Homo sapiens: one gene and its partner. The protein of the gene in region 2 purifies or fractionates together with the protein of the main gene of each other region. This does not show direct contact. Each region holds a gene or a part of one and is shown on either strand. Other genes may lie near its edges.

What was found. Proteins that work in one complex are often made in the same cells at the same time.
Region 1: the proteins of MALT1 (region 2) and HECTD4 purify together in Homo sapiens (affinity purification with western blotting, with the first as the bait; one study listed by BioGRID). This does not show direct contact.

Annotation. Positions count from the first base shown.
Region 1 is NC_000012.12:112,249,932-112,253,431, forward strand, and holds part of HECTD4 (probable E3 ubiquitin-protein ligase HECTD4), read right to left. Parts: intron 2,628-3,500; coding exon of another isoform or gene 2,598-2,627; coding exon 2,493-2,597; intron 1,204-2,492; coding exon 1,040-1,203; intron 447-1,039; coding exon 213-446; intron 1-212.
Region 2 is NC_000018.10:58,730,465-58,733,964, reverse strand, and holds part of MALT1 (mucosa-associated lymphoid tissue lymphoma translocation protein 1), read right to left. Parts: intron 569-3,500; coding exon 391-568; intron 84-390; exon of another isoform or gene 1-83. UniProt on the Homo sapiens protein: Protease that enhances BCL10-induced activation: acts via formation of CBM complexes that channel adaptive and innate immune signaling downstream of CARD domain-containing proteins (CARD9, CARD11 and CARD14) to activate NF-kappa-B and MAP kinase p38 pathways which stimulate expression of genes encoding pro-inflammatory cytokines and chemokines.

The sequences.
Region 1 (3,500 bases), on a different chromosome or scaffold from region 2:
TGCCAATGCTGCTGACTGGTGGGCCAAATTTTGAGAGCCCCTAGTCTGGAATACTGCCTGGTGGGCCCTCTAGACTCAGTTAATTTTAACATTCATGGAGTAAACATAAAATTAAAGTTTCATTTACTAGACCACAGAAGAAATATACCCATTTCAATTGTTTAAACTTTTTTTTCCCATTGGGAAAAGTAAAACACTACACAGCAACATACTTTATACTTGGTCTAAATTGAGGTCTAGCACGCCCAGAAATTTCCCTGAGCTTTATCATGATTCCTGGAGGCAGTCTGATCCGAGGCAGATCAAAGTAGTTTCCAACAGGAGGCACGAGGACATCAGAGGGGTAGGTGAATTCTCTGTCTTCCTCTATGGTCAGAGGCAGTGGAGAGGGGCTCGGAGTAAGGGCAGGGGAGATCACGCCATTGGCCTCCACCTGCCACTGGCACCTGAGCAGACAGAAAAGAGGCTCTTCACTTCCTCTCTCAACAAGAGTATTGGAAAGCTATTGGATGTTTGCAGATACATCAAACATATGAAGGATCACATTCTGTGTTAAGTAATTACTCATCAAACCTTCTCCAGAAGCTAAAGACAAGTGAGCATTGTATGAAAGCCCATCTTTGGGGATCTAGCTCCCCCCCAATATTTAATCATTAAAACTTTTAAATGTACAGAAAAGCTGAAAGAATGACATGGTTAATATCCACAGACACACTTGTCTAGATTGTACAATAAACATTTGCTGTGTTTGCTTTATCACACATCCACCCATCCTCTTGGGATCATTCAATTTAATTAGACAATAATTGTGTTGGAGAAAAGCTTATGCAGTTCAAAGATGTAATTTTAAATTTAGTAAAGTAAGGGCCAGAAAGCACTATGGTGTAATTTTCATCTTATTTTTCTTAGACACAATGACACCCATGAGATTGCCAGGCAGTAGGCACAATCACCTGGGAAATGTACCAAAAGGATTTTTCCACATAAAGTCCTTTTTCCTTTGCAGGCAACACTAGCTCAATTTCAACCTTTTTGTTACCTTTGTAAAAGTTTGGACCGCAATAGCTCCTGACAGGCTTCTTCTTCTTTGGTAATTTCTGGTCCATTGTACAGGATTCTTAACATGGAACAAGCTAACACAGACAGACCTAAAGCCAGGTCTACCAGAAAGGGCAAGCCTCCTGAGACATCCTCCGAAGACTCCTACAATGCAGACAGGGGTAAACCACACTGGTCAGTGTACACTGGCAGAGGCTGCTACCTGTGCTGCCCCACACTGCACTGTCCCCAACCACAGGGTTCTACAGAGCAGCATCGAGTATCACTGCTAGGGGACACAGGTACAGCACCCAAATCATGACTAGATGGTGGCACTGGAATGACCAGAGTGAAGTCTCAACACATTTCTGGAGAGAAAATAGTTGATCAGACCCCATATACAATAGTACAAATCAAATAAATAGTACAAATGAAATAAAGAAGCCTGATTCTTTGATAGCTTCCTCTCTGTTGTGCCCACCTAAGTATAAATCACTATTTTGTTTTTTCACTTCCACCCTGTGCTCAAACTGTGATGTTGTCAATGACTGCAGTGAATTCATTCAAGAAATATTTACTGGGTGTCCTCTGTGTGCCAGCCATTGTTCTAGGTGCCTGAGATACATCAGAGAATGAAATGAAGATCCCTGCTCTCACGGAGCTTACATTCTAGCAGTTAATGCCACTCTGGAGAGTCTTAGCTTGGTTAAGCTTAAGAAACCTCAAAGTCTAAAATACGTTTTCGGAATCAGGCAACTGGAGGGGTAAGTAGGATGCTTAAGTACTCTGTTTTTTGTTTGTTTGTTTGTTTTTTAATTTTTGAGACGGAGTCTCACTCTATCACCCAGGCTGGAGTACAGTGGCATGATCTCAGCTCACTGCAATCTCTGCCTCCTGGTTCAAGCGATTCTCCTCCCTCAGCCTCTCGAATAGCTAGGACTACAGGTGCCCACCACCACATCTGGCTAATTTTTGTATTTTTAGTAGAGACGGGGTTTCACCAAGTTGGCCAGGCTGATCTCGAACTCCTGACCTCAGCTGATTCACCTGCCTCAGCCTCCCAAAGTGCTGGGATTACAGGTGTGAGCCACCACGCCCAGCCGGATGCTTAACTACTCTTAAAACCCAGGATCTAAGTGCTTATTTCTATTAAGTTCTATTGAGTCCTCTTTGCCCTGTGGAAAGATGCTGGGGTCAGGTCACCTCCCCAAACTTTGAAGAGGGAGCTCCAATCAATAGATTTATTTCTGTGCTGCTGAGTTGATTTTAGGTCATGGCTAGTTTTATTCTGTAAAAGTACTACTAACTGCTAGTAGTTGACTAGTGCCAACTAGAAGAGAAAGATGAAAGAGTGACTCATATTCTGCCCTGTTTCCAAGGCAAATATGCTGTATGTAATCAAGGCACATAGCAGATAGTACATTTTGTCCACGGCAGTGGTTAGATTCAAGTACCTGAGCGCGAACTGTGCAAGCAAAGCCCCACATGGCTTTATCAGGAGTGTTGTGTTCACGGCCACTTCTCATTTCAAAGGAGAAGGTGACTGTATCTCCTTCCACCTTAAAATTTAAGGAAGGGGGGGAAATGCACTTTAAAAACAAGATACACAATTTCAAAAGAGCAATGAATTTCAGAGGTTTACTTTCAAAAAGGACCACAGCAATATTTCACTCCTTTTCTCATTTGCTTTTTGATTCAAATTCTATTCCCTCTCATTTAGACAACCAGTCCTTTAAGTGTCTCTCCTGATGAGGTCGCCTTTGGGATGAGGCATCTGTGAAATGGGCCACAGTTGCCCATTAGCAAGATCAAGGTAAAGGTTAATCAAATCTTGAAAATAATTTTTTTTTTTTTTTTTGAGACAAGGTCTTACTCTGTCACCCGGGCTGGAGTGCAGTGGCACAATCATGGCTCACTGCAGTCTCAATCTCCCAGGCTCAAGCAATCCTCCCACTTCAGCCTCCTGAATAGCTGGAACTACAAGTGTGCAGAACCATGCCCAGCTAATTTTTTTATTTTTTTTTTGTAGAGACAAGGTCTCACCATGTTGCCCACGCTGGTCTCAAATTCTTGGGCTCAAGCAGTCTGTCCACCTCAGCCTCCCAAAGTGCTGGGATTACAGGCGTGAGCCACCTTGCTCGGCCTTGAGCATAATTTCTCTCTTTTTTTTTTTGTAATGGAGTTTCGTTCTGTCACCCAGACTGCAGTGCAATGGCGCAATCTTGACTCACTGCAACCTCCACCTCCTGGGTTTAAGCGATTCTCCTGTCTCAGCCTCCTGAGTAGCTGGCATGACAGACACACACCACCACGCCCGGCTAATTTTTGTATTTTTAGTAGAGACAGGGTTTCATCATGTTGGCCAGGCTGGTCTCAAACTCCCGACCTCAGGTGATCTGCCCGCCACAGCCTCCCAAAGTGCTGGGACTATAGGCGTGAGCAGCTGCACCTGGCCATAATTT
Region 2 (3,500 bases):
CGGCTACTCATTCCATGTCTGGAAGACCAGGACTGACTAGTGAGCAGAGATCCCAACTCCATGGGTGTTGGTTTTGTTAATTCCTGAGGGAATAACTATAGTGATTATTAAAGTCATCTAAAGGCATTCTGGAGAGTTGAATCCCCTGTAGTGTGAGTAAATGCCCATGCCCTTTAGTTCTTCATTTGTGTTCTATAGCAAATATGAAGAGTTAAAATAATTAGATATACATGGAGTAAATGTATTTTCCTCTAGTTTTGTTCTTCCAGTTTCAATGTATAAACTAAAATTCACAAACGCAAATGGCTTTTAGCATTTCACAGGTTTCTCTAGTTTGTCATGGTCGATATTTAACTCCAACAATTCTTTAATAAAGATTAGAAAACTTACCTTTTCCTACACATATCCAATAAGAACACATTAAGTCCAGTTTCTTTTTCTTGCATCAATTTCAGTATATTTTGTACACACAGACAATTTTCAGACCTATATGGATTTGGAGCATCAACGGGGACCATGAAGCTGTTCCCAAAATTTTCATAACCATGTCCTGCATAATATAATAACCCTGAAAAGAGGAAAAATAAGAGAGAGATAGATGTCAATTCTAAATGCACTCTGAACATACAGACTGCATAACTTTTTGTAGAAAAACCTTGACTTTAATTTTCTTCAGGTTGATGTGAGCATATGTAAGAAATACCCAATTATAAATATAGACAATGTTATTTTGCATTTAAAATTATTGGCAACAGGCCAGGCATGACGGCTCACACCTATAATCCCAGCACTTTGGGAGGCCGAGGCAGGCAGATCACTTGAGGTCAGGGGTTCGAAACCAGCCTGGCCAACGTGGTGAAACCCCATCTCTCCTAAAAATACAAAAATTGGCTGGGCGTGGTGGTGGGCACCTGTAATCCCAGCTACTTGGGAGACTGAGGCAGGAGAATCACTTGAACCTTGGAGGTGGAGATTGCTGTAAGCTGAGATCATGCCACTGTACTCCACCCTGGGCGACAGAGCAAAACTCTGTCTCAAAATAAATAAATAAATAAATAAATTACCAACAGTCTGCACTTAAAATTTGCATTTCAAGACAATATCAAAATGCTGTCTGAAGTATATCCTAATTTATAAAATATATTTGTAACCAATAGTATAATATAAAATACAATTTTATGTTATGATATATAAAAAAGAATGCAGCTAGGATTTCTCTCCTGACTCATTTGTCTCCTCCATGAAGCTAGGAGTTCTGTTAGGGCAGAGATAGTCTTACATTTATTTATTTGTGTGTTCCTGGCATAGAGAGCAGGAGCTTAGTAAGTATTTAACGGATGAACAAACACAATTCAGATGAATAGCAACTGCAATATGAAGTCAAGAAACTGCAGGTATTACCATAAACAGTTAAGGGTTATTAAAATATATAGTTTTATAATCAGAGATGGGAAATCTGACTTCGCAGATTGCTATTTTTTCTTTTTGCTATGAGATATAAATATCAATCTTCCATCTAGAGTCTTTTGACTCAATAATCTAAAATTTGGGATAGTTTTAGGACTCAACAGATGAATCATATTTCCTTACTGAGAAGTGATACTATAAAAACTAACCCAAACAACTCAATGTTTTCTTGAAATTTGTTTTGGCTGTAAAAAACAACAAAAATATCAGTCTGAACTTCTTCATAAAAGTACTGGACAAAACACTTTTGAAGATATCCTCCCCTCTGCTTGCAATATCTGGAGCCCACTGATTTTGCTCTCTCAATATTCTGGATTTAATGATTTCTTTACAGGGTATTTTAAAGCAAATAGTAAAAGCCATTTAGACAGGGAACCAAAAGTAGCTAATCCATTGTAATTATGGCCCCGACTCCTAGCAGAGAATGCGGCTTTGAGAATTAAAGACAATTTGCTTCATGTGGTCCTACAGGACAAAATCCAGGTCGTCTGCTTTTTCTGAATTTCGATTAAAATGAGAAAAATGGTTCTTTCAAATACGTTTCAGCTAAAATGAGAAAATGGATATACCCATTTTCAAGTGTGGGTTTATATTACAGCTCATGTGTGCACTGGAAGTTATCATGTAGGCACTGAGAGAAACAAAAAAGAAGGACAAAGTTCCTGACCTCTAAGCAGGAGATCAGGAGATTCATGTATCTCCATACATGAATTCACACGATTCACACGTTTATGTTATCAAGCAACAATGAAAGTCATCACATAATTAAATGCCATAAATCATGTTAGTGGGACAACCACCATGTACGTATGAAATGAGTAAAGTAGAGAGGAATATCAGTATGAAGTGAAACAACAGGGGATGGTCTTAAGAGAGGGAATGGCTAGAAATTTGCAAAGGCAGAGAGAGAGCGAGGTAGATTATGGGCAGGAGAACAGAAATAAACACGGATTGGACCTGGAATGAAAGCTAACAGAAAAGAGACTAGCCTAGCAAAAAACTAAATTACTGTTGTGAATGAAAATAAGACTGCACACACAGGGAATTTTAAAAAGGAGTGCACAGATAGGGTTTTAAAAATAATGACCAAAAGAATGGATTTAATTCAATAAACCACGAAGATCAGGTAAAGTGAAAAGACAACCCACACAATGGGAGAAAATATTTGCAAATCATTTATCTGATAAGGACAGCTTGTATCCAGAATAAAGAACTCTTCCACTCATCAATAAAAAGACTAATGACGGCCAGGCGCGGAGGCTCAAGCCTGTAATCCCAGCACTTTGGGAGGCCAAGGTGGGTGGATCACCTGAGGTCAGGAGTTCAAGACCAGCCTGGCCAACATGGTGAAACCCCGTTTCTACTAAAAATACAAAAATCCAGCTAAGTGTGGTGGTGGGAGCCTGTAATCCCAGCTACTTGGGAGGCTAAGGCAGGAGAATCGCTTGAACCTGGGAGGCAGAGGTTGCAGTAAGCTGAGATCGTGCCACTAGCACTCCAGCCTGGGCAACAGGGCAAGACTCCATCTCAAAAAAAAAAGACTAATGACTTGATTTAAAAATAGGCAAAGGATCTGATGCTTCTCCAAAGAGGATATATGAGTGGCAAATATGCACATGAAAAGATGCTCAACATCATTAGCCACTAGTTCCAAGTCATTTTAAACTCACCAGGATGGCTACAATAAAAAAGACAGACAAGAACAAGTGTTGGCAAGGATGCAGAGAAATTGGAACCCTCATTCATTTCTGGTGGCACAAATGTAAAATGGTGTAAGAACTTTGGAAAGAGTTTTGCAGTTCCTCAAAAAGTTAAATATAGATTACCATATGACCCAGGAATTTCACTTCCAGGTACATACCGAAGAGAAATGGAAACTACGTCCACACAAGAATGTGTACACAAATGCTCACAGCAGTATTATTAATCATGTCCAAAAATGTCCATGAGATGATAAATGGATAAACAAAATATAATCATATAATAGAATATTATCTAGCCCTAAAATAATGAAGTTCTAGTACATGCTACAA